Linked DNA regions of Homo sapiens. The protein of the gene in region 1 interacts with the protein of each later gene in a biochemical or structural test. Each region holds a gene or a part of one and is shown on either strand. Other genes may lie near its edges. The genes, in order: BCL11B, NR2F1 and SUV39H1.

Region 1 (3,750 bases):
CCCAGACACCCTGGAGAAAGAAGATAGCCTCAGAGGTGCTCCTTGAGCTGTTTTTAAGAGGGATGAGGCCGAACTTCAGAATTCCTTTTTCATTTCTGTCCTCCCTACCACCGTCTTCTCATCACCAAACACACAGAATAGGAGAGGAGAGGGAAAGAATCCCTATGTAATGCCAAACTTGTAACAGCCTGGCTCGGTTTCTAGTGTTGGTGTCCTGGGCCAACTGGTTCTGAGGTCGCGGGGGGAGTCTCCACCCTGCCCCTCGGACAGCACGAAGCCTTCTGTGACGCTGCAGGCATGCGATGTCTTGGGGAGGTCCCGGCCCCTCAGAAACTGGCAAGTCCAGTTTCAGGCAGAGGCACAGGCCACACTCAAGACCTTGGATGGAATTCAGGGTATTTGGTCCCCGAGTCACTTGATTTTTAAAAGATGGTTTCCAAATGAAAGTTTATGTGCCTATAAACACTGCTAAGAGTGCAGCCTTCCAGAAACATAATTAGTGGGTGGAAAACAAAAATGCTGTCTGCCTAGGATTTCAGAAGGCCTGTAATCGATTGGTGGAGAGAGTGAGACAGGGGACTGTTTTCTCCACTTCCCATGGCAACTTACCGATATTGGGAAGGGTCATTCATTTGCACGTTTGACTTCACCAGAGCTTGTGGCCCCTGTACTTTAGCATCTGTGTTAAAATCTTCCAGGTAGATGAAAGTTTGAGAAAACAAAAGGGATCTTTCAAGATCTCGCATGCCATGTCTTCTGCTGGATCTGAGCTGGGATTCTTGTTCCTCTTGCATCCCCAGCTAGTGAGTGCAATGCTGCAAGACGGGTCCTGTCTGCACCGTCTCTTTTATGCAGAGCATTAGGAGAGGTACATACTGGAAAAGCGGCGAGCTTCACCCCCAGGTGCAGGAGGGCACTTGCAGGATGGGTTCCGGAGGAAATGTTCAGCCTCCATTTTGTGATTGTCTCAGTGATGGACACAGACGATGACGTTTTGGCTCCATACCACGAGTGTTCGCTACAATTTGCTGCCCGTGTCACCAGAGCCAGTTGCTAACACATCAGCATTTGCCACTGTTCATCCTGACTGCCCTGTCAGATGTGAGGATGTTCTTTCATTGCTTAGTATTCTGGCAGAGGACTTTGAAAGACTCATGTAGGCCAGTGTGCCCCCGCCTTCCCTGGGGTCTGGAGGTGGAATTCCAAGCGGTGTTTGGGCGTGTGTGTGAGGACACGGGGTGGGGGCAGCTGTCACAGTAGTAGCCGGTCTTCACAGCATGTTAAATTTTTTCTGTTCCTAGGAATCCATATTCAGGTGTACAGTGCTTTCTGCACAGACGGTGGTGTAGGAAACACGAGAATTTCCTATAGCTAAAAATCCCAAATGTTGCAGAGGTATTGCAGCTATTTCTCTTAAAAAAAAAAAAGTTTGCAGGATAGTACAGTTTGATTTGTGTTTCTGTACAACTCCCTGGAATCAAATATTATCAGAATTGGTTGTTCTCAAAGGGGTCGGTGATCTTGCCCCCCTCCCTGGGAAGATTCGGCAAGGCCTGGAGACATTTTTGGTCCTCGCAACCGGGGGAGGTGGATGCTCCTGGCATCTATCTAGTGGGTGCAGGCAGAGGATGTTGCTAAACATCCTGCAATGCGCAGGACAGCCCCCACCGCCCAAAGAATTAGGATGTAAATGTCAGTAGTGCCTTGACTGAGAAGCCCTGGCCTAGATGGTTTCGGGTGTGGAGCATCCTCGAGGGCTGGGATTTGCCAGGGCTGTTACACAGTCCAGCCTTGACAGAATTCCTACTACTGGACCGTATTCTCACAAACACGATCTCCCGTGGCCTCGGAGGTAATGGAGATCAGAATCCCTTTTCTTTGGGGGAGCAAGGCGGGTCTTACACAATTGAAGTAAGTCGCTGGCGCCCGGGTGGCCAGGGCGGCCCGCCCACAGACCTGCGTCTTCGGCCCCCCAGCCAGGAGGAGACAAGGCCGGGCCTGCTTGCAAGCGGCCCTGCAGCCCCTGTCAGGCAGGGCACTGGGATCCCGGATCAGCCCGGGCCGCGTCCCCCAGGCCAGTGGCCCTGCGGTGCCCGCGCCCCGCTGCCGCTTCTCACGCTGTCTCTGCCTTTCTGTCCGTGTGTTTCCCCAGGTAAAGATGAGCCTTCCAGCTACATTTGCACAACATGCAAGCAGCCCTTCAACAGCGCGTGGTTCCTGCTGCAGCACGCGCAGAACACGCACGGCTTCCGCATCTACCTGGAGCCCGGGCCGGCCAGCAGCTCGCTCACGCCGCGGCTCACCATCCCGCCGCCGCTCGGGCCGGAGGCCGTGGCGCAGTCCCCGCTCATGAATTTCCTGGGCGACAGCAACCCCTTCAACCTGCTGCGCATGACGGGCCCCATCCTGCGGGACCACCCGGGCTTCGGCGAGGGCCGCCTGCCGGGCACGCCGCCTCTCTTCAGTCCCCCGCCGCGCCACCACCTGGACCCGCACCGCCTCAGTGCCGAGGAGATGGGGCTCGTCGCCCAGCACCCCAGTGCCTTCGACCGAGTCATGCGCCTGAACCCCATGGCCATCGACTCGCCCGCCATGGACTTCTCGCGGCGGCTCCGCGAGCTGGCGGGCAACAGCTCCACGCCGCCGCCCGTGTCCCCGGGCCGCGGCAACCCTATGCACCGGCTCCTGAACCCCTTCCAGCCCAGCCCCAAGTCCCCGTTCCTGAGCACGCCGCCGCTGCCGCCCATGCCCCCTGGCGGCACGCCGCCCCCGCAGCCGCCAGCCAAGAGCAAGTCGTGCGAGTTCTGCGGCAAGACCTTCAAGTTCCAGAGCAATCTCATCGTGCACCGGCGCAGTCACACGGGCGAGAAGCCCTACAAGTGCCAGCTGTGCGACCACGCGTGCTCGCAGGCCAGCAAGCTCAAGCGCCACATGAAGACGCACATGCACAAGGCCGGCTCGCTGGCCGGCCGCTCCGACGACGGGCTCTCGGCCGCCAGCTCCCCCGAGCCCGGCACCAGCGAGCTGGCGGGCGAGGGCCTCAAGGCGGCCGACGGTGACTTCCGCCACCACGAGAGCGACCCGTCGCTGGGCCACGAGCCGGAGGAGGAGGACGAGGAGGAGGAGGAGGAGGAGGAGGAGCTGCTACTGGAGAACGAGAGCCGGCCCGAGTCGAGCTTCAGCATGGACTCGGAGCTGAGCCGCAACCGCGAGAACGGCGGTGGTGGGGTGCCCGGGGTCCCGGGCGCGGGGGGCGGCGCGGCCAAGGCGCTGGCTGACGAGAAGGCGCTGGTGCTGGGCAAGGTCATGGAGAACGTGGGCCTAGGCGCACTGCCGCAGTACGGCGAGCTCCTGGCCGACAAGCAGAAGCGCGGCGCCTTCCTGAAGCGTGCGGCGGGCGGCGGGGACGCGGGCGACGACGACGACGCGGGCGGCTGCGGGGACGCGGGCGCGGGCGGCGCGGTCAACGGGCGCGGGGGCGGCTTCGCGCCAGGCACCGAGCCCTTCCCCGGGCTCTTCCCGCGCAAGCCCGCGCCGCTGCCCAGCCCCGGGCTCAACAGCGCCGCCAAGCGCATCAAGGTGGAGAAGGACCTGGAGCTGCCGCCCGCCGCGCTCATCCCGTCCGAGAACGTGTACTCGCAGTGGCTGGTGGGCTACGCGGCGTCGCGGCACTTCATGAAGGACCCCTTCCTGGGCTTCACGGACGCACGACAGTCGCCCTTCGCCACGTCGTCCGAGCACTCGTCCGAG
Region 2 (3,750 bases), on another chromosome or scaffold:
TAGTTGTGTCATTTTTTTTAAAGCATGATACTCGTTTTATTTCTTCATCAAACTCCACCCTCTGCTTAAATACTGCATACAAATTACAATTTACAACGGCATTTACCGATCCTTCTGATTTGGCCGTAATGCATAGACTGCAGCTAGCATGAGCTTCCACATCATTTAATCCCTGTGTTGTATGGGTTTGTTTTTTTTAAAAAAAAACACAACTTTTGATGTTGTATTTGGATATGCTTCATGTTCATGTGGCAAGAGATGCAGTACTTTTCTTATAAATATATTTAGCCGTTTACAGTTAAAGTTTATCTCTTGACAATCATTAAAGATGTCTTATAGTCAAATTAGCGAACCAGTCAATTTTGCAGAATGCAGATTACTCCTTCTTGTAATTGACTTTAAAATTATATTTTATATGCCACAAGAAAAGAAATTGAATTCCTTCAGATCTCAAGGAGCAGACAAATATGACTACTTCATTTCTAGCTCCAGGGAGATTTTGTAGGCATCTGAAAAAAAAAAAACTTTGAATTGTACTCTCACTTAATTGAAAAATAACTGCCAAGTTCAAAACTATAATTAGAAAAAAGTATTCTAGGCATTATGTTTCAAGAGCTTCAATTGCACTGGAACTTGCATTAAAATTAGAATCAAAGCAAACTTAAGAAAATAGAACAAAACCTGAAATAAGATAGCTACATGTACATGAACATATCTATATTAATTTGTTGGGGGAAGAGTTCAGTAGCCCTAACTTTTCCTAAAGTTGTCTTTGTTTATATGGCAATTTAAAACGCTGGCACTGTTGAAGTAAAACATACACATTTAAAAAAAAAAAAAAAAAAACTTTGGTCAGCTTTAAGAACTCAAAGCATGCTTACGTTTTGCATTCAGATGGTTAATGAATCCAGTGTTTTTGCAGTTGAAAGCTCGTGCATTCACTGGGCAAAAGCTGGCTGCAGGTTGCAGTGGCACCGCGCAGGACAGACATTAATTATATTTCCTACTTTTTTCAATAATGTTTGGCTACTGTAAGTTCAACTTTTTTTCTTGAAAATTTTCAATTTTCTGTTGCTTTTAATAGTGAGAACTTTGTATGGGGCGACGGGGAGGAGGGGAGAAGGGAGGGGTGCAGGATACTTGTTCTCTACTCAAAAGTTGTAAGTGGTTAGTAGGATATGTAACTTGTGTCTATTTTAAGAATTATTCTATAGCATTTTAAGAGAATGTGGAAACATTTTATCAGCAAAACGCTGCTTGCTTGCAAATGAGGAGGCCGCTAGGCATTTGCCTAGAACCACAACCTTTCTCCGGTTTCGCCTTTTTTTAACCCTGATTTTTTTTTTCCATTCTGGAGGGGTGAGTGGGGTTTCATTTATCTGTGTGTTCCCCCGTGGTGGCTTAGGGGTTGGATGACACTTTCTTGACCTTGCCAGGGTTGGGGCCCTGGAGTCAGGCCTAGCTCCGGCGGGGCTGACGTGGCCAGGGGCTCAGGCAGTGGCTGGACACACTGAGCTGTGGAGCTGGAGGGCCTCACCCCAGATCTCCTAGCGGTGTGGACTGTGAGAGCGAGCCGGAGAAGATGCGCGGGGCGCGTGTGGCTGCGGGAAGAGCTTCTGCATTGTGTTGGGTACGCTGCGGCGCGGCAATGTTCGCAAGCTCCCTGGATGCACATTGCCTCTTTTCTCTCTTTCTTTTTGTCAGCGGTTCAGCGAGGAAGAATGCCTCCAACCCAGCCCAATCCAGGCCAGTACGCACTCACCAACGGGGACCCCCTCAACGGCCACTGCTACCTGTCCGGCTACATCTCGCTGCTGCTGCGCGCCGAGCCCTACCCCACGTCGCGCTACGGCAGCCAGTGCATGCAGCCCAACAACATTATGGGCATCGAGAACATCTGCGAGCTGGCCGCGCGCCTGCTCTTCAGCGCCGTCGAGTGGGCCCGCAACATCCCCTTCTTCCCGGATCTGCAGATCACCGACCAGGTGTCCCTGCTACGCCTCACCTGGAGCGAGCTGTTCGTGCTCAACGCGGCCCAGTGCTCTATGCCGCTGCACGTGGCGCCGTTGCTGGCCGCCGCCGGCCTGCATGCCTCGCCCATGTCTGCCGACCGCGTCGTGGCCTTCATGGACCACATCCGCATCTTCCAGGAGCAGGTGGAGAAGCTCAAGGCGCTACACGTCGACTCAGCCGAGTACAGCTGCCTCAAAGCCATCGTGCTGTTCACGTCAGGTGAGGCTGCGGTCGCGGGGAGGGCAGGCCGCGCCGGCAGCGAGCGCAGGCCCCGCGCCGCCCGGGCCTGGCCTTCGGAGCCTCCCGCGCGGCCGGTGCGGGGCGGGCCGGGCCCTCGCTGGACACTGAGCCTGGCCCGGGTCTGTGACCCCCGCGCGGTGACCGGCTGGCCGCGCCGCTGCCATCTTGGGAGCGCGGCGGTGCGGGAACCGAGGCGGCGCGGGTGCGGCCGGCGGGCGGCCGGGCCTAGTCGCCCGGACCCCTACGTGGGGCCGCGGCTGCCGAGGGTGTGTGTCTGAGGCGGGGGGGCGGTGCTGTGGATCCGTCTGGCTGCGCGCGCGCGCGCGCGTGTGTGTGTGTGTGTGTGTCTCTGTGTGTGTGTCTGTGTGTGGTGCGTGTTATGTGTGAGCCAGAGCTCAGCGTTTCTGGGGGAGGCGAGGGAAGGAAGAGAACGTGGGAATGTGGCTTCTTACCCTGTGTGGCACTCTCCTTGAATGAATTTCCCGACACAGAGAGACACAGAGAGAGGTGGAAAGAGAAGAATACGCACAAATAAATCATAATAATCCCGCTTTATCGCTGCCTGATTTTCCCTTATCGGAAACCATTCATGTTTGCAGTTGGTGAGGTTATTGAGGGTCGTAAAAAACGGATTCGATCTAAACAAGAAAGATAAAAAACAAAAGCAATGCTGTAGAACCCGCAAGTATGGGAGGATTCCCCGCCTGAAGATGAATTCCAAAGCTATGCAAAACACATGAACACTGGAAATTTAAGAGTGCCTTAAAAAATATCAAATTATGTGTAGGCAGTGGTAACATGCATGTTAACAATTTCTCTTATGATAGATGGTTCAAATTAACTTCCAGAAAAGTGCATTAACGTTTCCTTTGAAGGGCTCTGGTCTGAGCCTCCGAGAACAATCCCCGCTTTTTATTATTGTAACCTGTAAGAGGGAAACATATAAACACCCAGGACAGCAGGTAATGGGGAGAAATAGAGACAAAGCCAGAGAGGAGGCTGGTGGCAAGTAGTGCTGCTTAGACTGGGTCTTGGGCCCTGCCCACTGTGAGTAGGGTTAGCTGCAGTTTTACCACCATTATTGGCAGTATTGTTTTTAATTCCTCCATTCGGAGAACAAATAAACCATCCTAATAAATCTATCCTAGAACCAGGCTTTCCAATGGCCAAATTAAAACCATTCTTGAACAGGGATAGCAAAATCCCTTTCATAAGGCCTTGTTGAACAGTAAGCAATGGTATAATCTATCAATATTTCTTGGCTTTCATGTGTGAAGAATTGTATTTACATTGTATTAAAATGACTCCTAAATTTGCACAATATTGTAATGTAGCAAATGTAGTATTAATATCGATCTGAACAGCAGATAATTTATTTAGACAAGAGCATCTCATTTGTATGCAGGGTGGCCAGAGCAATGGACTTGGACTGCCCCCCTTTTACTTTCAGTGCAAATGCAGGTCTGCTAGTGAGAGAGGGAGTTATTCTTTCCAAGA
Region 3 (2,933 bases), on another chromosome or scaffold:
TACAACATGCAAGGTGGGGGTGGCAAGGGACTGGGGGCAGGGGCGCACTGTGACTTGGGACACAAGGACCCCTCCCAAAGGCACACCAGTCACTCAGAGAACCAAGGAAAATTCTTTAGCGGGAGCTTTAAGATGCTCTTCCTGACTCCCAGTCCCCCATTCGGACTACTAGACCCCTGCCTACCCCTCGAGTCCCCTCATTCCCAGCCCCTGAACCCTAACCCTGAGGCATTCATACCAACTTCTCCCAAGATTCCTGGAGAGTTAAGAAACTCCTGACTCCAGTCTTGACTGAGTTTCCCTCATCCCCCAGCCCCTCCCCACTCCTAGCTCCCTTTGGCCTTCTTCATCCCAAGCCTCTGGACACCCTTGTGGCCTCCAGCCAGTCCCCTCCTTGATAAGCTAGCCACCTCTGAGACCCTCAAGGGCAGGTCTTTGGCAGGAGAGTTCAGATGTACCTCTGGATGCCCAGGTGGCCCTCTATTCCTGCCCCTGCCCCCCCCCACACACCTAAAACGACCCTCCTGGTTCCTTGACGGCTCCCTGCCTCCCCCAGCATTCTTCAACCCCTGGCCTGAACAACCTCCAGTGCTGAGCCCTGGCCCTAGCCCCAAACCACCAACCCTAAGATCTCCCAACTCAAATCCCAGAGTTGCTCCCAGCCCCAAAGATCCTTGGTCTCATGGTATAAAGGGTAGTGGGACCCTTCATCCAGGCCTTCTAACAAGTCCCCTGCCTCCTTCCCTACCTTCCTCCCTCCCTCCTTCTCCCCCTCCCTCCCTGCCTCCTTCCCTCCTCTCCTCCCTGGCTGTGACTCCACAGTGGACCCCGTGGACATGGAGAGCACCCGCATGGACTCCAACTTTGGCCTGGCTGGGCTCCCTGGCTCCCCTAAGAAGCGGGTCCGTATTGAATGCAAGTGTGGGACTGAGTCCTGCCGCAAATACCTCTTCTAGCCCTTAGAAGTCTGAGGCCAGACTGACTGAGGGGGCCTGAAGCTACATGCACCTCCCCCACTGCTGCCCTCCTGTCGAGAATGACTGCCAGGGCCTCGCCTGCCTCCACCTGCCCCCACCTGCTCCTACCTGCTCTACGTTCAGGGCTGTGGCCGTGGTGAGGACCGACTCCAGGAGTCCCCTTTCCCTGTCCCAGCCCCATCTGTGGGTTGCACTTACAAACCCCCACCCACCTTCAGAAATAGTTTTTCAACATCAAGACTCTCTGTCGTTGGGATTCATGGCCTATTAAGGAGGTCCAAGGGGTGAGTCCCAACCCAGCCCCAGAATATATTTGTTTTTGCACCTGCTTCTGCCTGGAGATTGAGGGGTCTGCTGCAGGCCTCCTCCCTGCTGCCCCAAAGGTATGGGGAAGCAACCCCAGAGCAGGCAGACATCAGAGGCCAGAGTGCCTAGCCCGACATGAAGCTGGTTCCCCAACCACAGAAACTTTGTACTAGTGAAAGAAAGGGGGTCCCTGGGCTACGGGCTGAGGCTGGTTTCTGCTCGTGCTTACAGTGCTGGGTAGTGTTGGCCCTAAGAGCTGTAGGGTCTCTTCTTCAGGGCTGCATATCTGAGAAGTGGATGCCCACATGCCACTGGAAGGGAAGTGGGTGTCCATGGGCCACTGAGCAGTGAGAGGAAGGCAGTGCAGAGCTGGCCAGCCCTGGAGGTAGGCTGGGACCAAGCTCTGCCTTCACAGTGCAGTGAAGGTACCTAGGGCTCTTGGGAGCTCTGCGGTTGCTAGGGGCCCTGACCTGGGGTGTCATGACCGCTGACACCACTCAGAGCTGGAACCAAGATCTAGATAGTCCGTAGATAGCACTTAGGACAAGAATGTGCATTGATGGGGTGGTGATGAGGTGCCAGGCACTGGGTAGAGCACCTGGTCCACGTGGATTGTCTCAGGGAAGCCTTGAAAACCACGGAGGTGGATGCCAGGAAAGGGCCCATGTGGCAGAAGGCAAAGTACAGGCCAAGAATTGGGGGTGGGGGAGATGGCTTCCCCACTATGGGATGACGAGGCGAGAGGGAAGCCCTTGCTGCCTGCCATTCCCAGACCCCAGCCCTTTGTGCTCACCCTGGTTCCACTGGTCTCAAAAGTCACCTGCCTACAAATGTACAAAAGGCGAAGGTTCTGATGGCTGCCTTGCTCCTTGCTCCCCCACCCCCTGTGAGGACTTCTCTAGGAAGTCCTTCCTGACTACCTGTGCCCAGAGTGCCCCTACATGAGACTGTATGCCCTGCTATCAGATGCCAGATCTATGTGTCTGTCTGTGTGTCCATCCCGCCGGCCCCCCAGACTAACCTCCAGGCATGGACTGAATCTGGTTCTCCTCTTGTACACCCCTCAACCCTATGCAGCCTGGAGTGGGCATCAATAAAATGAACTGTCGACTGAACAAACCAAGATGTGAGGTGCTTGTGTGGGTGGGGGTTGAGGGGATAGAGGCTGGGAGCTGGGTTTGCCCAGGAACATGTTCCTCAAACCTCAGCCATTTGACTCTAATCCTCACAATTTCAGCCCCCACAGCATATCACTTACACCATCATCTATATAACATCTTGACCTAAAATAAGTTTGTTTTATACTTAAACTTTAAAATGCACTTAAGGCTGGGTGTGGTGGCTCACATCTTTAATCCCAGCACTTTGGGAGGCCGAGGCAGGCAGATCGCTTGAGCTCAGGAATTCGAGACCAGCATGGGCAACATGGTGAAACCACGTCTCTGCTAAAAATACAAAAATTGGCCAGGTGTGGGGGCATGTGCCTGTACCTGTAGTCCCAGCTACTCAGGAGCCTGAGGTGGGAAGATTGCTTGAGCCTGGGAGGTGGAGGTTGCAGTGAGCTGAGATCTCACCACTGCACTCCAGCCTGTCTGTCTCCAGAAAAGAGCCAAACCCTGTCTCAAAACAATGCAATTAAATTGACTGGTT

The links.
Region 2: the proteins of BCL11B (region 1) and NR2F1 form a complex in vitro, tested with the Homo sapiens proteins (2 studies listed by BioGRID).
Region 3: the proteins of BCL11B (region 1) and SUV39H1 form a complex in vitro, tested with the Homo sapiens proteins (one study listed by BioGRID).

Annotation. Positions count from the first base shown.
Region 1 is NC_000014.9:99,174,598-99,178,347, reverse strand, and holds part of BCL11B (B-cell lymphoma/leukemia 11B), read left to right. Parts: intron 1-2,152; coding exon 2,153-3,750. UniProt on the Homo sapiens protein: Key regulator of both differentiation and survival of T-lymphocytes during thymocyte development in mammals.
Region 2 is NC_000005.10:93,586,213-93,589,962, forward strand, and holds part of NR2F1 (COUP transcription factor 1), read left to right. Parts: intron 1-886; exon of another isoform or gene 887-1,018; coding exon of another isoform or gene 1,019-1,031; intron 1,032-1,704; coding exon 1,705-2,232; intron 2,233-3,750. UniProt on the Homo sapiens protein: Coup (chicken ovalbumin upstream promoter) transcription factor binds to the ovalbumin promoter and, in conjunction with another protein (S300-II) stimulates initiation of transcription. Binds to both direct repeats and palindromes of the 5'-AGGTCA-3' motif.
Region 3 is NC_000023.11:48,706,615-48,709,547, forward strand, and holds the end of SUV39H1 (histone-lysine N-methyltransferase SUV39H1), read left to right. Parts: coding exon 1-13; intron 14-822; coding exon 823-956; 3' UTR 957-2,402; downstream 2,403-2,933. UniProt on the Homo sapiens protein: Histone methyltransferase that specifically trimethylates 'Lys-9' of histone H3 using monomethylated H3 'Lys-9' as substrate. Also weakly methylates histone H1 (in vitro).